5 linked regions of the Homo sapiens genome follow. The protein of the gene in region 2 purifies or fractionates together with the protein of the main gene of each other region. This does not show direct contact. Each region holds a gene or a part of one and is shown on either strand. Other genes may lie near its edges.

Region 1 (4,378 bases), on a different chromosome or scaffold from region 2:
TTATAATACTTAATACAATGTAAAAGCCAAGCAAATAGTTGCTACTCTCTGTGCACACACACACACACACACACACACACACACACAAACACACACACATGTATTTTATTTATTTATTTATTTTTGAGACAGTGTTTCACTCTGTCACCCAGGCTGGTGTGCAGTGGTATGATCATGGCTCACTAGCCTCGACCTCCTGAGCTCAAGCGATCCTCCTACTTAGGCTTCCTGAGTAAGTGGGACCGCAGGTGCATACCACCATGCCCTGCTAATTAAAAAAAAAAATTTTTTTTTTTTTTTGGTAGAGTCTCCCTATGTTGTACAGGCTGGTCTCAAACTCCTGGGCTCAAGCAATCCTCCTGTCTTGGCTTCCCAGTGTTGGCATTATAGGCATGAGCCACAATTGAAACTGCCTTTGCAAAAATTATAACTGAGGAAATTATGACAGTGAAAGAAATCAGACTTCATTGACTCTATCTTGTTTCTAACCCTTAAGCTGTCCTTGTGGGATTCCTGGGCTTAGGCCGAACTAATTGTAGGAAGGAATTCAGTTCGTGGCTTGACTCTGAAAGAAAATTGGTAACAGCCCTTTCCCAATAAGACCCCCTTCTTGCCTGGGGTCCAGTCTGACTTTGCAGGACTAACAAATTAGCTACAAGATTAGAAATTACAATTTAGAGGTCATGCAGCCTCTGGCTCCAAGAGTCTGAACCTCCTCAAATTGCTCCTGGGGATAACATCACTATTGTAAAACCTAAGATCAGTGCGTGAGATATTTTCCAGACCCTGTACTCGATGGATCAGCTGACACCACTCAGACCAGTAATCTGGCCCAACCAGTTCTGCCATTGCACCGAGGAACAGAAGACAGCAAGAAAAACCTAACTTGGCACCCCCCATGATTCCATCTCCAACCTGACCAATCAGCACTCCCCACTCCCCAAGCCACTACCTGCCAAATTATCTTTAAAAACTCTCATCCCTGAATGCTCAGGGAGACTGATTTGAGTAATAACAAACCTCTGGTCTCCCGCAGAGCTGGCTCTGCATGAATTACTCTTTCTCCATTACAATTCCCCTGTCTTGATAAATTGGTTCTATCTAGGCAGCAGGCAAGGTGAACCCACTGGGCAGTTACACCACGCCTGGCCTCTGCTGTTGATTTATGTATTTTTTATTGCTGTATTGCTATTATTATTTTTTGAATATTTTCCATCTGTGGTTGGTTGAATCGTGGATCCAGAACCCACAGACAGGAAGGGCTGACTGTAGCTCTGTTCACACCGTGCTCCCAGACACAGCATATCCTCTCCCTAACTCTTGTCTCACTAAATCACAGCCTCCCAATCTGCTTAATGCTCAGCTCCACTGTCTCTTTTCACACAAATCCTTCTTTCATCTCCCCATCACCACTTTCTGCATTGAGGCCCTGTCCTTGGACTATCCTTTCCCTGGTGTTTACTCATTATGGACCCCCACAGCTCTCCTTCAGTACATCTCCTGCTCCTTGCCACGTGATTGCTCATATAATTTAATTTTGTATTCCTGGACATACTGTAAGGCAGTGTTCTTCACATTTTGAAAAAAAATCACAATCCACAAGAAGGAAAGCATTTTTTACAGCCTGTCTTATCATGAATATACACATAGTTAAAGTTTCACAAAGTAATGCTTTACCCTTATGGATGAGATGCATCCTGGCTTTTTTTTTGTTCCTTCCCCTATCCTGTTTTCTTCTCTTCTACTCTACTGGAGTGAATTTTATTCCATCCCATTAGAAGAAGGAAAGTTGGTCTATGTTAATTTTACCATCTGGTAATGAAACATTATTATAGTTTTAACAATCTGCAATAAAGCCTTTATGGGCAGAAACTATACCACAGAGCTTTACATGTGAGAAGTGCAACAGATATTTATTTGATTAAGGTGCTGTGTCTCCTAACAATGATTATGAAAAACAGACACATGGTAGGGAACCTGGCTGCCCTAGACTGGTCAAATAGGTTTTCATATAATATCCTAGACTGAAGATTCACAACTAGGGAAGAGGGTGTGACTCCCAGGGGGACAGAAGGTGTCTCTGGAGGAAGGCAGGACTGTACGGCTGTGAGTGGCAAGTGTAGTCTCAATGAGCATATTTAATATTTATTTTATTTTTGAGACAGAGTCTTGCTCTGTCACCCGGGCTGGAGTGCAGTGGTGTGATCTCTGCTAAGAGCAACCTTCACCCCCCAGGTTCAAGTGATTCTTCTGCCTCAGCCTCACAAGTAGCTGAGACTACAGGCGAACGCCACCACTCCCAGCTAATTTTTGTGTTTTTAGTAGAGATGGGGTTTTGCCACATTGGACAGACTGGTCTCGAACTCCTGACCTCAGGTGTTCTGCCCACCTCGGCCTCCCAAAGTGCTGGGATTACAGGTATGAGCCACTGTGCCCGGCCTTAATATTGTAATTTTAACCCTGAGTGCCAAGTTTGTACTTAAATCCCCCTTCACATGGGGTAGAGGAAATTGCGCCAGACCAGGAATCATGAGGCAGCAAGTCAGCCTTGACTGTGGGGCACCGTGCTGAATCATTCTGAGGCTGCTGTGAAGCCCTCCATCTGGTGAATCTGACACTTCCAAAGAGCCTTCAGTAGCAAACTGTTAAGTAAACTTAGGGTGTTTTGCTCTTTCTGTTGCTGCAGAGAATTCCAGAACTCCCCTTTCATTTGAGAGCGCACCTACCCTTGGCACTTGTAATGTTTTAAATTCCAGAAACACTATCCTGTGAATCACAGAAGTTCAGAACCTAAAATGGTTTTAAAGTTTACCTAATCTAACTAATTTTATCAAGGAGAAAATGAAGAACCAGAGAGACTAAGTTGCTCAAAGTGATGTAACTACTGAATGGTGAAACTGAAACAAAAATTCCAGTTCCCAAACTCTAGTCTACTCCAGTCTAATACTCGTTGCAAGGTTCTCTAAAGCTATGGGGGGTGAAGTGAGCATTTAAACCTCTGTTTCTTTTCTTTATCCTCCTTTCTTTCCTCTCTCTGTCTTTCTTTTTTTCTTTCGTTTCCCCCTCCCTCCCTCCCTCCCTCCCTTCCTTCCTTCCTTCCTTCCTCTCTCTCTCTCTCTTTCTTTCTCTTTCTTACAGGGTCTCATGGTTGCTCAAGCTGGAGTGCAGTGGTACAATCTTGGCTCACTGTAACTTCAGCCTCCTGGGCTCACGTGATCCTCCCACCTCATCCTCCTAAGTAGCTGGGACTACAGGTGTGTGCCACCATGCCCAGCTAATTTTTTTTGTATTTTGTTTTCTCTGTCTTCTTTTGTAGAGACAGGGTTTCACCACGTTGCCCAAGCTGGTCTCAAACTTCTGAGCTCATGCGATCCACCTATGTCAGCCTTCCAAAGTGTCTTTGCTTTTTTTTTTTTTCTTTTCCTCTCTCTCTCTCTCTCTCTCTCTCTCTCTCTTTCAGATGGGGTCTTGCAATGTTGCCCAGTCTGTAACCTCTCTCTTTAGCCACTGTGTTAGATACTTTGGGCGGACAGTTGTATGCCCATATCAAATTCAGAATAGAGGTATCAGAAGTCATTTTACGCAGTTACTTCTTTTACAAATGGGAAGACCAAAAACAAGATCTCACTGGAGAAAGAGCTAACTGGCTCTTTCCTTTGGTCTTTTTCTTCTTTTATTCATTTAACCAACAACTACTGAGTATCTACCATGTGCTGAACATTGTTACAGGTGCTATAAGGGAAGATGCCAGGAAAACAGAATGTTATCATCTAATGATATTTTTAGGGGGCAAGGAGTGCCAGGGCAGTATGGGAACACAGGAAAGGACCACTTAGGTTAGTTTATGGGGCATGGGTGTATGTGATAACATGTTTGGGGAGGTCAAGCTGACTTTGAGGTGGTCACAGATCACCCAACCGGACGTTCAGTCACTACTTTATTAATTCATGGAATAAACATTGTCGAAAACCTTTGCCAGGTGGTACAGATTTGGAGATTAATATGATAGGGATAATCAGGAGGATGGTGAGGAGTATTACACAAATTATTGTACAATGCAGTAAATGCTCTGATCATTTGGGGAGGATATTCCAGGTAGTGGGTACCATAAGAGTAAACGAGGAGGGGTCAAGAACAGTATGATGACTGTGAGTACAAATATTACAAATAGTTGTGGCTGGAGCAAAGACTGTCAAGCAGGACACAAAAAAGGTGTTCTGGCAGGGGCCAGATCTCAGAAGAACTCAGAGGCTGTTGTGGGAGTTGGATTTTGTAACCATTAGTCCAGTGATGGTGATTTGATAGCAAGCCAGTTCATCTACTCTAAATTAGTTCAACTGACATTTGTGACCTAAACATAGGATTTTGCAAGTATGTC
Region 2 (4,378 bases):
GGGAGATTATCATGAAGTTAAGCACATCACTGATGTTTATTCAAAGGCCCATGTGTCAATTCTCACTGTATGAGGATCTGCTTCAAGGGGTGGAGACACGGGAGATGGCCCCTCAGAGGTATCAGCAGAGAGAAATAAGTTAAAGGGAAACGAGGGGGAATGTGGATCATGGAAGATCACCAAATGGTTAGTGGCTGACCTGGCAAAATGACTGAATGGGTGTCCATGGCCAAGCCACCTGACCATCTGAGTAACCAGAACAGCTGTGGGGAGCCTGGCTACTGAAGAGGAGGAGGAAGTGCCTACATGGCATCGCGCTTCACTGGCACCCAGGTAGGCTGCATGGACACGTATCCCCCAACTTTCACTATCCTGCTATGATCACAGAGCTGAGCAATAAACATGTGCAGCGGGCTGTTGAATGAACAGAGCACATTCCTTTGGAGAGCTGGGGTAGAAACAAATGAAAAGAAAAACCCCCCAGGGCCATAGCAGCTGCAGACATCTGTGTTTTGACATCAGCTATTTTCAACAGGCTTTGGGGAAGAAAGGGGCCCAGTTGAACAAGCCCGTTACCAGAGCCTGTTAGCATGGAGCTCACTCTCCACCTCAGAGGGAGCAGCGAGGCAGGGTGGGGATGCTCATCGAAGGTGTGGGTTAAGAGGGGACGACCCTCAGAGGACCTGGCGACCTCTTATTTGACTGGAGGACCTCAGAAGCTGCTCTTGCAGCCTTCCCCACTCTGCACGGTTGAAGGAACAGAGAATCTCAATTTCCAGAAAGAATGCCTTACCACAGGCCCTGAGTGGTGTCCGGGCACAACCACCACTGATGACAGCAGGGAGAGCAGAGGACATCCCTACCCCAGAAAGAACAACTGGGGCCCAGGCAGGAAACTGCCCAGGACACACTGAACTTTCTCCAGGCTTGATGGCGCCTTGATTGATTTTTCTCTGAGGAGCTGCTGAGGGCACACTCCGCAGGCTCAGCCTAGCCACGCACTGCCTGCCATGCAACTGGTGCGGGGACAGGAACATGACTCAATCCAGGCCATAAGACTCAATCTTTGCACTTGAATTGGAACCCCTGAGTCCAGCCCCGGTTCTGCTGGGGTCACTGAGCTGGGAGAATGTCAGCCTGGAGCTGCTGCAGGAAAGTGGAGGGAGGCCAAATCCTGGTGACAACATTTACAACCCTGAATCTCAAACACCTAATGTCAGCGGCTGTTGTTTGGGGAAGTCAATCAATCCCCACCCCAAACACACTTTTTTTTTTCCTGCTTAAGATTAAAGTGGTTTTTCAGTTCTTTGGAACCAAAAGAGCACAGACTAGGATAATCAAGCTTGCGTTGGCACGACATGAAAAAAAAGTTGTGAGAGGTTTTTCTAGAAAAGTAAAAGACAGCAATGACTGCAAGAGGTCACGAAGAAGCTGCTGATCATTCCTTGGATATGTGCCATTCGCTGGAGACATGTGTGCTGGGAGGCTGATCAAAGGTGCTGGAGGGAAAAAGTCACCTCTGCAATGAAAATGTACGAGGATCCACAACCACATTCTATGTTAATGATCTCAATGTACAGCCCTTCCCTGAGAGAAACTAATTTGCCTTATGAAAAATGAAGCAGCCAACTTAAGCTATGGTGAGAAACCATTCACTAAACTTGGGAATGCCAACACAGGATGACAACATCTCCCCATTCCATGTCAACAAAGAGAAAATGCAAACAGAAGGAGGGGTCCAGATTGACTTCTAAAAAGAAGGTAAACTATGAAAACATGCTGGGTGGCATCCAGGCACAGCCATTACTGATGAGAGCTGTAGAAATGCAGTATATGAAACACTCCAATTACAGCTCAATCATACAAATCCTACATGTTTCTAACCCGATCCTGCCACTAATCTGTGTGCCCTTGATGGGCAAAACCATGCATGCCCATTCCTCCCAGAACTTCTGGCTCTGCAAAGCTCTACGTTGGGCAGTGACTTGAAATGCTCTGGGCTGATGGCACCAAGTGATGGCAGTGAGAAGCCTCTGCCCTTGAGTCCTCCACCACCTCCTTCAAGACAGCGGTCCTAGTTCCTCCTTTGATAACACCGGCTGGCTAATACCAACTCTGAGACACTGATAACTAAAATCAGTGTCTCCCTCCTACACAGATACAACACTCCTTTTAAAACCTAGTCTTCTTCCCTTTTGCTTACAGGTCTTGCTAGTTACTTCAAGATACCCCTCCCTCTCTTCCCTCTGCAAGTCAAAAAGCAAGCCACAGTGCTAAACAGGAAGACGGTCACAGGACAGTGTTTATGGTAAAACCAAAGTATCTCAGAGATTGGATATTTTGCAATATTAACCACGGGGATCTCTGGGAACAGGGAACTCTTCATTTTTGAAATGTTCTCTAGTTAGCAGGTGTTACTACTGAAATCAAAGGATAAGGGGAGGGGGCAAAGGAAACTTCACTTTGGGTAAAGAAACGGTCCTGAGTAGGAAGCATGAGAATGCTGTGCTGATAATCCTGGAGCAAGGAACAGGAAACGATCACTCAGAATCAGGTTTGGCAGCAGAAATTAACTTCCTCCTGTTCTGTTTTAATCAATTTGTCCCAAATTCTAAGACACTGCTGTTTCCAACTAGTTGAGATGTGCATGGACCAGGACTGACCCTGTAGGGGCAGGGCTTATTTAAATGTCTTTGGTCTTGAAGAGGAAGAGATGGGGGCTTTAGAGACACCAGGGAAGTGAACAGTAAATCTGGCTCCTGTGTTACCTCCATGCCCACAGCGCCTCAACCCTCACCCCATCCAAGGATCTTGGGCCATCACAAGCTTACCCCACTTGGGGAAGGTGGAGCAAGTCTTTCCTGGCACATTTTCTTTTACCTCATGCATTCTTAAAGTGGGTGCTATTGTCCCCAAAGAGACAAAAATTAGTTCTCTGGGGCAAAAAAACCCCCCTCAGCTTATAGAACAGCTTGTGACCCTCTAGAAGGCTACTGGCCATAAGCAGAAGTACAATATTATCTCTGATATTACAATTTTATTTTGGGGCAAATTAGGGGAAAAAAAAGTCTCACAAGGCTCCTAGGTGGGAGGGAGGTAGTGATCATGGCAAAAGATGGAGAAACATAGTTGTACCTTCAGCCCTAGGAGTATTCTGTGAGCATACATAGGAGACTTACAATGACTTTTACCTCCAACAATTTTTCAACTAGATTAAAAACACTATCAGTAACAAGACACTGGTGGGCACCAGACATCATCTCTGTTTTAAAAGCTTCCTGGCTTTACAATGCTGTGATGGGTTTTTGTTGTTGTTGTTGTTTCTGAGACCGAGTTTTTTTTTGCTCTTGTCGCCTAGGCTGGAGTGCAGTGGCACAATCTCAGATCATGGCAACCTCTACCTTCTGGATTCAAGTGATTCTCCTGCCTCAGCCTCCCAAGCAGCTGGGATTACAGGCACCCACCACCATGCCGGGCTAATTTTTGTATTTTTAGTAGAGAGGGGGTTTCACCATGTTGGCCAGCTGGTCTCGAACTCCTGACCTCAGGTGATCCACCCGCCTTGGCCTTCCAAAGTGCTGGGATTACAGGTGTAATTGTTTACTATCCAATGTAGAAGGCAAGACTGCCAGAAAGAAACCCTGTCCAAGCCACATGGGTCTGGGGCAGAGATGGTCTCCCCATCTGCCTGAAACCCTCACCTGAGAAGAGAATGGAGTTTGAGGACCTTCAAGAGTAGAGACTACCAGAGCCCTGCTGAGGGTCTGAAAGGTACAACACAGCCGCTACGGCATGGGAAGACCCAGGAGAATAAGGAACTGCACCTGCCTGCAGGGCCTCCTCCAGCTGTCACAAAGACAGGCAAAGGATCACATCTTCTGTCGAGCATCTGTGAAAGAATACATACACACATACAAGGGAAAGGTTTTTTTGTTTGGTTGTTTTTTTAGATGGAGTCTTGCTCCATCGCCCAGGCTGGAGTGCAGTGGCGGGACCTCGGCTCACTGCAACCTCCACATCTGGGGTTCAAGCGATTTTCCTGCCTCAGCCTCCCAAGTAGCTGGGACTACAGGTGCGTGCCACGATGCCGGGCTAATTTTTTGTATTTTTAGTAGAGACGGGGTTTCACCATGTTAGCCAGGACGGTCTCTATCTTCTGACCTCATGATCTGCCCGCCTCTGCCTCCCAAAGTGCTGGGGTTACAGGTGTGAGCCACCGCGCCCGGCCCCAGGGAAAGGTTTTAAGTCATTAAAAAAAAAAAGGAAGTTGATTCCAAGTCCATCCTTATACCATTACTTTGACCCACCATTCCCCGCTGCCCCCACCGTACAATTCTACACCAACCTGATCTCCTCATCCACAGGAATACAAGTGGGC
Region 3 (4,378 bases), on a different chromosome or scaffold from region 2:
CTGTGTAGTTAACATTTGAGACAGATCAACATTTGAAATATAGGTTTGGTGTATTTGGACGCATATGTTATTACAGTGATGTTTTAATGAAAGATTGATTCTGAATATTTTGTTTTCCTCTGTAGACCAAACTGTTATTCATTCTGCTTCATAAGTGAGTGTTAACATTCATTTTAGGGAAAGAATATTCAAATAGATTCTATTTATTTAAATACTCAGTAGGGAATGAAGAATATTATTTGTATTGTTTATAGCAAAAAGCACATAGTTGAAAATTAAACTGGTATTTGCATTTTAGTAGTAGCAATTGCAGATAAAAGATCGGAGGTATCCAGAAGATGCACCGATTAATTGCAGCATTTGTGTTGTCAGCGTATCTGTGTAGCCACGTGTATCCCTTAAAAGATAGCAAATTAAATACCTTTCCCTTCATTTGAAATGACATTCTTTTTCTGGTATTTGAAATTAAATTTAAGATCAATTGAATATCCTTTAGAAACACTTTACAAAAATGATGTTTAGTTCAGCAAAAAGAAGCCACGTATTTACTTTCTAAGTTGTAGAGATAAAAATATTCCTTGTGTGTGTTTTTTTAAGGGTTCATTTGTTTTTCCATTTTCAGAAATTGAAAAGGGAGGGTGTGGGGATCCTGGAATCCCCGCCTATGGGAAGCGGACGGGCAGCAGTTTCCTCCATGGAGATACACTCACCTTTGAATGCCCGGCGGCCTTTGAGCTGGTGGGGGAGAGAGTTATCACCTGTCAGCAGAACAATCAGTGGTCTGGCAACAAGCCCAGCTGTGTATGTGAGTATTATGCCTTGACCTGGACTCCCTCCTGTCCTGCAAGGATCTTGCAAGGGGAGAAAAGGAGAAAGACACAGACCGCCCATTTAGGGAGGGCAGCTTTCAGAATGGCTCGGGGTGCCACATTTACTGGAAACGTGCAAGGACGTTCTCGAACACCAACTTGCCTGCTTTCTTCATTTAGTAAAAACTAATTTATAGTTTCATTACATCTACTCGACAAAATGTACTTGAACGTTTCCTACCAGAAAGGGTCATCACATATATCGTTGTTTCCATCAAAAGCCAGTGATGATCTGCTGTATCAGACATCAGTACAGCAACAGAGTCCTTTGTGACTTAATAATGCTGTATAACACTTAAACACAAGTTGTTCACCAGTGCGAGCATGGGTGGTGGTATTGGTTTGGAATTCAGTTGATGAGCTGCCCACTTCCTCTTAAGAATACTATTTTAACAAGTAGAAAAGGCTTCACAGTCGATTTTAAAGGAGAGGTTTTTTTTATTTGTAAATAACTATAGCAAAGGCTGAAAAGTGTGTACAAAATTATATGGAATAAGAAGCAAAAATGTATTCTAGAGATAAATCCAACAGTTTCTCCCTCCAAAAAATTATTTATATAATATATATGATTTTAAGTACACATTCTTAAAAGTAAATTTTTCAAAATACTTTATATTATCCAACTAGAACATGATCTGATGTTTCCAAGTTATTTATTTATTCATGTTTACCCTGTAACTAATAAAAATTTTAAATTACTGGAGAAAATGCACTCACAGGAAAGTATAAAATATAAATTTAAAAGTTATGAAAGAGCAGGCTGAATTGTTCCTATGATATAGGAATATACTTTTCCATATTAATATTTGCTCTTCTGAAGGCAGAAAATTATAACTAGAAATTATAATATTTGGCACACGTTTTCAGTCAACTGGAAAGGATCATTTTTGAACCACGCTTGTGCTTGATTATGTATAGGTTCTGGTTGTGCTCTATATGATAATGAAATATTCGACTTACAAATTAGGAAAGGAGAAAACATTATGGTCCAGAATTACTTATATTAAAATAGTTGGATCATCATAGCTATTTGCAGGCATGAATTGCCTTTCCAGGTTCTTAGCTGTCTGTTTCACATGGCAATTCTTTGGATATGTGCATAACTGTTTGAAAATATATTTGCATCTTCACAGTTTCATGTTTCTTCAACTTTACGGCATCATCTGGGATTATTCTGTCACCAAATTATCCAGAGGAATATGGGAACAACATGAACTGTGTCTGGTTGATTATCTCGGAGCCAGGAAGTCGAATTCACCTAATCTTTAATGATTTTGATGTTGAGCCTCAGTTTGACTTTCTCGCGGTCAAGGATGATGGCATTTCTGACATAACTGTCCTGGGTACTTTTTCTGGCAATGAAGTGCCTTCCCAGCTGGCCAGCAGTGGGCATATAGTTCGCTTGGAATTTCAGTCTGACCATTCCACTACTGGCAGAGGGTTCAACATCACTTACACCAGTAAGTACGCCCACACAGTCAACACATCCAAGTTCTCATTTTACTTACATGTTCCCATTTTGCTTATATGTATGTGAAGTTGCATTTCAAGGTTGATACTTCAGAGGTTTTATAATCATTATGAAAATGACAGTAGTAAAATTATAGTGTTATCCTGAAAACTTAAAAACAAATGTATCACTGTATTTAGATAGGTGGCTTCATCACTCCTAAACTAAGAAGCTGGATCTCCTCTCTCTTTCATCTCCTTACATCTCTTTCTCTCCGGTTTTCCATTTATCCATCCATCCATTCATCCATCCATCATTCTATCCATCCATGCACCCACCAAACCATTATTCCATCTATTCTTCCATTCATCCATCCATCTGTCCATCTGTATCCTTTCATTCATCCATCCATCATTTCATCCATCCATGCATCTATCCATCCTTTCTTCCATCCATCTTTCCATCCATCCTTCCATCTATCCATCCATCCTTCCATCCATTCATCCTTCCATCCATCCATCGTTCCATCAATCCATTGTTTATCCATCTTTCCATCCATCCATTCATCATTCATCCATGTGTCCATCCATTCATCCATTATTCCGTCTATCATTCCTTTTATCCTTCCATCCATCTATCAATCCATATCCTTCCATTCATCCTTCCCTTCCATCGTTTTGTCCATTTATCTATTATTTCACCCATCCATCCATTCATCCATATCCTTCCATTATCCATCCTTCCATCTGTCCATCCATCCATGCATGCATGCATTCATCCATCCATCCTTCCATTCATCTTTCCATCCATCCCTCCATTCATCTTTCTTTCCATCCCTCCATTCATCCAGCCAGCCAGCCATTCTTCCTTTCTTCCTTCTATTCTTCCTCCCATCTATACAACCATCCACCCACCCACTCAGCCACTTATGCATCTTTCTTGCAACAAAGTAGTGTAGTAAAAACAACTGTGTAATATGATGTCAGGAGCCAAGGATTAAAATACAGCACTAGTATGTAATTAGTGAAGTTTAATGACAGCTCATTCTCTTTGCTTTAGGCTCCTCATTTTAAAACCTATTTTATGTAAGAATATCTACTTAAATGCACTGTAGATGGAATAAAGTGAGAGAATATTAATATGAGTAATACTACATTATGATATGCTAACTGCCTAGTTTCTTAGGCAGAATACTTAGAATTGGACAATAATTGTTTCATTTAGTGTTATAGTAACTAGAGGATATAAATTTAGTAGTCTCTCATTCTGTAAATAAAGATAGCTAGGCTTAGAGCGTCAGAGTCATATGCCCAATGTCAGAGTCCTCTGACATAGTAAGAAAAAAAGTCAGGATTCTAACGAGAGAAATCTTGAGCCCAGACACTTTCTACCACCCACCATATCAGTTCTCTCTTTGTCTAAGCTCCTATGAAAAGTGCTTTTCAAACCCTAAATTGCTGCATAAATGATAGTTATATTTGTTCATCTCCCTGCTCGCTCTTTCTCACTAGACACTGATATCCTATTTATTAATGTATTATCTATCTATGAATGATACAACTGAAATTTATATAATTATATACATTATATGAATGCTTTATAAGCTTGTTCTGTTTTCTTCTTTTTTAATACATGTAATTAATACTCAAGTATTTTTATTCCTTTTTTCTTCTTCTTTTTCTTTCAGCATTTGGTCAGAATGAGTGCCATGATCCTGGCATTCCTATAAACGGACGACGTTTTGGTGACAGGTTTCTACTCGGGAGCTCGGTTTCTTTCCACTGTGATGATGGCTTTGTCAAGACCCAGGGATCCGAGTCCATTACCTGCATACTGCAAGACGGGAACGTGGTCTGGAGCTCCACCGTGCCCCGCTGTGAAGGTGCAGTCCCTGCCACCCCCCGCTCTTCTCCTTTGAAATCACACATCTATCTTCAGGCACACACACAAACCAACAAACTGTGTTAGCTTGCTAGGGCTGCCCTAACAAAATACCACACACAGTCACTTAACCAACAGGAGTGTACAGTCTCCCAGTTCTGGAGGCTGGAAGTCTGAG
Region 4 (4,378 bases), on a different chromosome or scaffold from region 2:
CAGACTCTGTCCCTAAAAAAATAATAAAAGCCCAGCTTCTAAATAGCTTACCGAAATTTTTTCCCCACCATGGAGAAATGCCTATAACCCGATGGTCCAGGCAACAATCTCTGGTTACATTTTAAAACTAGATGAAAACAGTTACTTGCAGGATGAATGTTATAAAAATGATGTTAGTTGAAAGAAGGAATAGGGCAAAGAATCTATAACGTTTGACTCAATTATATAAAGTTAAGAGGCCATATTAGAAGGTTTTTTGTTTGTTTTTGTTTTTTTTTTTTTGAGACGTAGTCTTGCTCTGTCACCCAGACTGGAGTGTGGTGGCAGGATCCTAGTTCACTGCAGCCTCTGCCTCCCGGGTTCAAGCAATTCTCCTGCCACAGCCTCCTGTGTACCTGGGACTACAGGTGCGTGCCACCATGCCTGGCTAATTTTTGTATTTTTAATGAGGGGGTTTTGCCATGTTGGCCAGACTGGTCTTGAACTCCTGGCCTCAAGTGATCCTCCTGTCTCAGCCTCCCAAAGGGCTGGGATTACAGGCATGAACCATTGCGCCCGGCCGGAAGGTACTGTTTGTGAGTGTGCATGGGTGCTGAGACTGACTGAGGGCAGGAGTGGCTCCCCTGTTGGTTGAATGGAGGTTACCTGCTGGTAGGGGAGGCTCTGGGACCAGCGTGGCTGAGTCAGGAGTTCTGACATGCTGGCAGTGTTCTGGGGTTGGATATAGGTATAGAGGTGTTTGCTATATAACAATACTTGACTAACTCTGCAGATACTTTTTATTGCACTTTTTCGCAGGTATGCCATATTTCACAATTAAAAGTGTTAAAAACTATTCATGTCTGTACATGGTTAGTGATTTCTATCCGTTAAGGAAAGATACATAATGAAAAGCCAATTCCAGCCTCCCACCTCTGCCGCCTCTCAGCTCAAAGAACCACTGCCCACCAGATTCCTCTGTGCTTATGAAGTCCAAGTGACACCTAATGTATTTTACGTTTTTAATGTATAGAAAAGGCATTGTTCCACCACTCAGGTCTTCACCTTGCTCTTTTCACGTAGCTGTAGTATTTTGAAGATCTCTCATATTGGCACCTGTCACTCTTTATAACAGCTGCAGAGCGTTGTGTTACTTTAAAAGGGTCCTGTTGATATTTGGACAGTGGTTATTTAATAGCTTTTTATCATGATAAATAATGCTGTAATGGAGTCCTGTATAATCCTGTTAAATGCTGTTTAGAATTTCTATAGGGTAAATTCCTACGGGGTGTGTGTGTGTAGTGTGTACATGTGGTTTCCTTAAGTGGATCTTGCCAGTTCGCCCTCCAGAAAGATTTGCTAATTATACACTTGGTCTGTTTGTGCTGCTGTAACAAAATACCTTAGACTGAGTGAATTATGAAGAACAAAGCTTTGTTTCTCGCAGTTCTGGAGGCTGGGAAGGCATTGGCATTGGTGTCCAAGATGGCGCCTCATGGCTGTCCTCACGTGGTGAAGGCGGGAGGGCTGGGAGCACCTCTTTCACCACAAACCCTTTCATAGTAACCTCCAAAGGTGGCCTCTTAATGCCATCACACTGACGATTAAGTTTCAGTACATGGATTTTTGGAGACATTTCAGACCGTGGCATGATGGTGTGTGAAAGCTCATTTCCCTACCACAAATCAAAGTGAAAAAGGACTTTGATCTTAAAAGTTAAATATGGCATCTTTTAGTTTTGATTTCCATTTTTTAAGTAAGATTGATTATCTTTTATGTGTTTATGGGCCTTTTGTATTTTTTCTTTTTTTGTAAACTTTCATATTATTTGCCCCTTTTGATTTTTGTTGATTCGTGTGTTAAGTAATTTAGCCTGAATTTGTGAAGTTTTGTGACTTTGTGAAATTTTTTCCCACGTACAACTTTTTTCTTTGTATAGCCTAATATGGTTTTCTTTTCTTTGTGACTTCTTTTTCTTTTCTTTGTGAAAAACCTTCCTCACTATAAGATTATAAATACCCACACTTTTGTTTTCAGAACTGTTATGATTCTGTGTTATTTTATTTTTGTTTTTTATGTTTTTTAGAGATGGTGTCACACTCTGTCGTATGAGTGGCTGGAGTGCGGTGGTGCAGTCATAGTGCACTGTATCCTCAAACTCCTGGGTTTAAGGGACCTTCACCTTAGCTTCCCAAAGTACTGGGATTACAGGGGTGAGGCACCCTGCCTGGCCTTCTGATTCTATTTTAAACAATGAGATTTTAAATAATAAAAAATCTAGAAATTATTTGTTGTAAAAAATATAATGTAAAATTCCGCCCTAATGTATGCCCACAAATCTCCAGCGACCCCAGCCTCAGTTACTGGACAGTTCCCTTCGCGTTGATGTGAAACGGTGCGTTTGTCCTGCTCTGGATTTCAGGGGTCTGCTGTAGAATTCCTGTTGTTTCACTGGTCTGTTTACTGCAGTTCCCAGTGCTTCGTCATTTCCATCACTGCACCTTTGTAGGATCTGCAAGAGCTAGGTCTCCAGCAGTTCTTTTTTTTTTAAAGCATTTTCCTCATTAGCCTTGGGCACTTACTGTTTTGAAACTAATTTTATTATCATTTTGTTGTGCTTTCTCCTTTAGTAGGTACTGCATGGAATGTTTATGTTAATTTTGGGAGAGCTGACATCTTTATAACATTGACTCTCAGTCTCTGATTACTTAAGCTTTGTTTAATATCTCTTAGTATTTTAAGATAAGGACAATATCTCTTTGTCATACATGGTTGTGCACCTTTCTTGTTAAATTTGTTCCTAGGTATTTTTTGTGTATTATTACTGTTATAAGGGGGTGGGTGAAGTGTTCTCTAAATACCAATGAGATTAACTTGGTTGACAGTGATGTCCAGGCCTTCCATAGTCTTCCATAGGGGTGTTGGGGTCAGGGGTCATCAGCTGTGGCTCTGACCCTCCATCTCAGTCCAGACCTCAGCATGGCTCTAGGTCACAGGCAGTGATTCTGAATGTGCATTTCTTCCAGAAACTCCACTTGGAGATGTTGGCAGACCAGCCACGAACAACTAAATACCACAGTGTCATCCTGCAGAATAAAGAATCCCTGACGGATAAAGTCATCCTGGACGTGGGCTGTGGGACTGGGATCATCAGTCTCTTCTGTGCACACTATGCGCGGCCTAGAGCGGTGAGTGGGGTCTCGAGCGCATCCCGGGTGTTTGTGCCGAGGCTGGTGACGTCCGAGGTGGCCTCTGAGTGTGCTGACTTGTGACCCTGAGCTGTTGGGGGCTCACCGGTGACTCCATGGTCTTGTTGAGCACCCTGCACGTGGGGCTCAGGGTCGGTAAAATAGCAGTGCGTGGAGACCGCGTGCTAGAGGCCGTGGCGCCCGCGTACAATGAGTCGCAGACAGCACAGACGGGAGTAGGGCAGAATAGACAATATCCCGTGAATTGCGTGGGGCGGGGTATGTTCTGTGAGACGTTTATTTCAGTTGAGTAGAGAAACACGTGCACCCACATGTCTGTGCTGGGCCTTGGGTGTGGTTGGTCTCATGGGGTTGGGAGGGATGCACACGCTGGGCCCCCTCCCCACCCCTCTTAGGCCGTCTATACTGTGCTGAGCTGAGCCGAGCTGCAGCCTTGGAGACTCCTTACACAGTGGGTGGGGTCGCAGCACAGTGTCCACCCAAGTCCAGGCTCTGCAGGACCCAGGACCCAGCGCTTGGGTGCTTCCCACCAGACCCTTCCCTGAGAACCTGGGTTTGAAATTGTCTGACAGGCCTCAGATGTGGCACAGACCAGCATTGTCACTTGGGTGCTAAGAAGTTGCTGTGCTGGTCATGGATTAAGATTGCTGTGCGTGTGGCAGCCGGCTCGGGCATGCGAGTCTTCCATCCACTTGCAGCCCTGCGTCTGTGTCTTGTCCGGGAGGTGGGGGCAGTTGGGAGGGTTAGAGGCGGCTCCTTTCTGGGTGCCCCTGGAGGGGCAGGTGTGGCCAGTCCTCGCTGCCTCTGCTGTCTGGAATGCTGCTTCCCTCTTGTGTCATTGACCATTTCTCGTGATGCTGGTTGTGACTCAGGAGAGTAGATGACGGGCCGTGTGCCGGCCGGATGTACGCTGACGGTGCCTCTGCTGCTGCAGGTGTACGCGGTGGAGGCCAGTGAGATGGCACAGCACACGGGGCAGCTGGTCCTGCAGAACGGCTTTGCTGACATCATCACCGTGTACCAGCAGAAGGTGGAGGATGTGGTGCTGCCCGAGAAGGTGGACGTGCTGGTGTCTGAGTGGATGGGGACCTGCCTGCTGGTGAGGGCGGGCGTGCGGGCAGCTGGGGGCCGGAGCTGGGGGGCTTCTGAGCACGGGCTCGGCTGGGCCAACCTCAGGATCTCAAGGGTCG
Region 5 (4,378 bases), on a different chromosome or scaffold from region 2:
GCTTGAACCCAGGAGGCGGAAGTTGCAGTGAGCTGAGATTATGCCACTGCACTCCAGCCTGGACGATAAAGCAAGACTGTCTCAAAAAAAAAAAAAAAAAAAAAAAAAAGTTGCTACCACTCACTTTTATTGCAGTGATCTTTTTGTTTTTTTCTGTTTAAGAGACAGGGTCTCTCTCTGTTACCCAGGCCAGAGTGCAGTAGTATGATCACTGCTCACTGCAGCCTTGAACTCGTGGGCTCAAGGGATCCTCCCAAAATACTGGATTATAAGCACGAGCCACTACACCCGGCCTTTTACCGCAGTAATCTACTGTCAGGGAACAGAGGTCCCTTTCCAATCCTTCACACTAATGAGAAGATTACTCAGCTCTTTACGTCAGTCCCAGCACCAGCCTCTTTCTACCCTAAGCAGATTCTGACTGAGCTCAATGGCCAACCACTGGTGAAAAGGTAAGGACAAGTGAGCTGCTGTGGCCAAAGCCACCAAGCACTGGCAGGCCTAGGAGGGAGGGCTTCCCGGATTCCTCAAAGGCCTGAGTCCTTATTTCAACCTCAGCATTGATTTCATATAAAATAAAATTGAATAATAAAATTCACATTAAAATTGCTGATATAAAATTAAAGGGAATCAGGAGCTGAAGAGAGCTTGGAGATCATGTAATCCAACCCCATATCTTACAGATAAGGAAACTGAAGTCCATGAAGGGACGTGGCTTGCCTGATGTCACAGTTAAGTTTATGGAAAGCCAGAACTGCCACTCAGGTCTCCTGAGCCTAATGCTTTTTTCCATCCACAGCATGGCTGAACTACAATATGAGATAAAGTTTACTTTAACAGCAACACGAGGCCGGGCATGGTGGCGCATGCCTGTAACCTCAGCACTTTGTGAGGCCAAGGCAGGCAGATGACTTGAGAGTCCAGGAGTTTGAGACCAGCCTGGGTGACATGGTGAAACCCCGTCTCTACAAAAAATACAAATATTAGCTAGGCGTGGTGGCATGCACCTGCAGTCCCAGCTACTCAGGAGGCTGAGGCAGGAGGATTGCTTGAGCCTGGGAGGTGGAGGTTGCGGTGAGCCAAGATCGCACCACTGTACTATGAACTAGGTTAGGCCTCCTTCATATTCAGTGAGGGTGCAAGTCCACAGGTTACTTTGTTCAAGCACAGAATGCCTGAATCCCACACTACAGGATGGGGAATTTTCCACGTTCATGGAATGTTGACACAGCAACAGTACCTTCAATCTTCCACCTTTCACCCATGCAAGCAAACGCCACTTTTGATTCTGACATTCTTTCCTTTGGCCATGAAATAATATGGCTCGAAAAAATCTTATTTCACTTCATCCTATTCCTTTTTAAAGAATTCATCTTTTAGATGAATTATAGAAGGCTGCTTTTAATATCAACCTCAAGGCTATGAACAGTCAGCTAAGATACAAAGATGTGAACAGCAGGCATGCATTCTAGGCGTTGGCTATTCTAGCAATCAAAGATCGAGACGTTTATGTCACCAAGCTAACCCCTGGGAGACCACGGTGGCCTTTCTCCACGCACTTCATCACTTAGACACGCCCATGTTGCCAATTGGCTTTAAAGAGTAGCCCAGAACTTGCCCAGTCACAGCAGGGTTCTCCAGTTCCCACTTTTGCAGCAATGCCTTGGAAGATGGTCTTGATGTGGGGCCTGTGTAAAGAAACAGTGTGGTTCAGTTAATGAGAAGAGACGGGCTGAGAGCCCATACCCATAGACACCAACATACCCATAGACACCAACCCCTATCTTTTCCTTTCTTTTTTTTTTTTTTTGAGACAGGGTCTCACGTTGTCACCCAGGCTGGAATGCAGTGGTGTGATCTCAGCTCACTGCAGCCTCCTCAACCTCCCAGGTTCAAGTAATCTTCCTGCCTCGGCCCCCTAAGTGGCTAAGACTACAGGTATGTGACACCACACCCAGCTCATTTTTTTGGATTTTGTAGAGATGGGGTTTTGCCATGTTGCCCAGATTGGTCTCGAACTCCTGAGCTCAAGTGATCCACCCACCGTGGATACCCAATGTGCTGGGATTACAGGCATAAGCCACCACCGCACTGGGCCCATCTTTTTCTTTCTAATGGGAGGTGGAAGTGCCCACAAAAAGATAATGAATGTGCTAAGTTCTCAAGGTCAACTGCAGACCCTTGACTGAAACTGGCCCCTCCTCCAGGTCCTGGTGGGCCCTCAAAGCAGACTGGACTATCGGACTGAGACTACAGACAGAAAGGCTGAGCAGAAGCATCACCAAAGCACCAGAAGAAATGTCTTCTTAGAGACAGGGTCTCACTCTGTTGCCCAGGCTGGAGTGCAGTGGCACAATCACGGCTCCCTGCAGCCTCAAACTCCTGGACTTAGGTGATCCTCCTGCCTCAGCCTCCCAAGTAGGTGGGGCTACAGGTGTGTGCCATCACACCCAGCTAATTAAAAACTTTTTTTTGTAGGGACAGGATCTTGCTATGTTGCCCAGGCTGGTGTTGAGCTCCTGGCCTCAAGCAATCCTCACACCTCAGCTTCCCAAAGTGCTGGGACCATAGGCGTGAGCCACCATGCCTGGCTAATTTTTTGTTGGTGGTGCAGAGATGGGGTCTCCCTATGTTGATGTGGCTGGTCTTGAACTCCTCGGATCAAGCACTCCTCCCACCTCAGCCTCTTGAGTCACTGAAATTACAGGCATAAGCCATCGCACCCGGCTCAGAAATTTCTACTGCAGCAGCAGCAGACAGTATGATTGCAAACAGCAGGCAATACGAAAGTTCCTTTAGAGATCCTCTTTTAATTTTTTCCCTTTTCTTTATTTCTCCTTATAATGGCTTTTAGCAAGTGAAGAGACCCTCTTTCATTTGTCTGGATGTGTGCTGCCAGGCACAGAATGGTTCTGGACATTTGGATTAAGAACCAGGCAGCGTTTTTGAGAGCTACATTACCATTCAGAGAAAGGCCGCTGTTCATTCCTTCCACAGCTCAGCACGCGGATATATTACTCTTGAGACTTTCCCTCACTGTTCTGCTCCCTAATGGCCAGTCAAGGCTTCCTCACAAAAAGTTTCTGGTACAGACATGAAATCTTACAGGGTTGCAAAGTTAACATTTAGGATTAGGGATGAAGACAGCCACACCGGAAACCGCAGAGCTTCACTGAACTTTTACAGTGTCCTTCTGGTAAAGGTGCCATTTGTACTTCTGCCACCACAGTATGAGGAAAGAGAACTGATGGAAACAACTGGAGCACTCCATATGTCAAATACTTTTACGTGCATTGTCTGCTGGTTGCCTTTCTAACTGCTCACTGTGCAGGTGCTTCGAGATAAGTATTTTCAAACCTTTTTTTTTTTTCTTAAGAAACAGGGTCTTGCTATGTTGTCCAGGCTGGCCTTGAACACCTGGGCTCAAGCAGTTCTCTCACCTCAGTCTCCTGAATAGCTGGCACTACAGGTGCAAGCCACTGCACACACAGCTGTTTAAACTTCTGAGAAGCAGAAAGGCCTCTCTACTTCTGTGTTTTATTAATAACACACTGAAGAGAATCCCCAGACTCATTCACCAGAAAGGTAATTAAAAAAATTATTTTTGGCTGGGCGCAGTGGCTCACACCTGTAATCCCAGCACTTTGGGAGGCTGAGGCAGGCAGATCACGAGATCAGGGGATCAAGACCATCCTGGCTAACACGGTGAAACCCCGTCTCTACTAAAAATACAAAAAATTAGCTGGGCGTGGTCGTGGGTGCCTGTAGTTCCAGCCACTTGGGAGGCTGAGGCGAGAGAATGGCGTGAACCTGGCAGGTGGGGCTTGCAGTGAGCAGAGATCGCGCCACTGCACTCTGCACTCCAACCTGGGCAACAGAGCAAGACTCCGTCTCAAAAAAAGAATCATTTTTTCTTTTTTACTGAGACCGAGTCTCGCTCTGTCACCCATGATGGAGTGCAGTGGTGAGATCTCGGCTCATTGCAACCTCTGCCTCCCAGGTTCAAGTGATTCTTGTGCCTCAGCCTCCCATGTAGCTGGGATTAGAGGTGCCCTCCACCATGCCCGGCTAATTTTTGTATTATTAGTAGAGAGTTTCACCATGTTGGCCAGGCTGGTCTTGAACTCCTGACCTCAAGTGATCCTCCCATCTCAGTCTCCCAAAGTGCTGGGATTACAGGCGTGAGCCACCATGCCCAGCCTTAAAGAATCATATTTCAGACCAGGCACGGTGGCTCACGCCTGTAATCCCAGTACTTTGGGAGGCCAGGGCAAGCGGATTGCCCACAATTATTTATATATATATCGGATTGCCCACAATTATTTATATATATGTGTGTGTGTGTGTGTGTGTGTGTATTTTTTGTTTGTTTTGTTTT

Evidence for each region.
Region 1: the proteins of AKR1B1 (region 2) and HEBP1 fractionate together in Homo sapiens (co-fractionation; one large-scale study listed by BioGRID). This does not show direct contact.
Region 3: the proteins of AKR1B1 (region 2) and CSMD1 purify together in Homo sapiens (co-immunoprecipitation; one large-scale study listed by IntAct). This does not show direct contact.
Region 4: the proteins of AKR1B1 (region 2) and PRMT2 purify together in Homo sapiens (co-immunoprecipitation; one study listed by IntAct). This does not show direct contact.
Region 5: the proteins of AKR1B1 (region 2) and PGD fractionate together in Homo sapiens (co-fractionation; one large-scale study listed by BioGRID). This does not show direct contact.

The regions. Positions count from the first base shown.
Region 1 is NC_000012.12:12,990,064-12,994,441, forward strand, and holds part of HEBP1 (heme-binding protein 1), read right to left. Parts: intron 1-4,378.
Region 2 is NC_000007.14:134,452,271-134,456,648, forward strand, and holds part of AKR1B1 (aldo-keto reductase family 1 member B1), read right to left. Parts: intron 1-4,378. UniProt on the Homo sapiens protein: Catalyzes the NADPH-dependent reduction of a wide variety of carbonyl-containing compounds to their corresponding alcohols.
Region 3 is NC_000008.11:3,405,850-3,410,227, reverse strand, and holds part of CSMD1 (CUB and sushi domain-containing protein 1 precursor), read left to right. Parts: intron 1-622; coding exon 623-805; intron 806-2,002; coding exon 2,003-2,329; intron 2,330-4,006; coding exon 4,007-4,201; intron 4,202-4,378. UniProt on the Homo sapiens protein: Potential suppressor of squamous cell carcinomas.
Region 4 is NC_000021.9:46,645,453-46,649,830, forward strand, and holds part of PRMT2 (protein arginine N-methyltransferase 2), read left to right. Parts: intron 1-3,005; coding exon 3,006-3,167; intron 3,168-4,122; coding exon 4,123-4,287; intron 4,288-4,378. UniProt on the Homo sapiens protein: Arginine methyltransferase that methylates the guanidino nitrogens of arginyl residues in proteins such as STAT3, FBL, histone H4. Acts as a coactivator (with NCOA2) of the androgen receptor (AR)-mediated transactivation.
Region 5 is NC_000001.11:10,405,381-10,409,758, reverse strand, and holds part of PGD (6-phosphogluconate dehydrogenase, decarboxylating), read right to left. Parts: intron 1,689-4,378; coding exon 1,619-1,688; intron 1-1,618. UniProt on the Homo sapiens protein: Catalyzes the oxidative decarboxylation of 6-phosphogluconate to ribulose 5-phosphate and CO(2), with concomitant reduction of NADP to NADPH.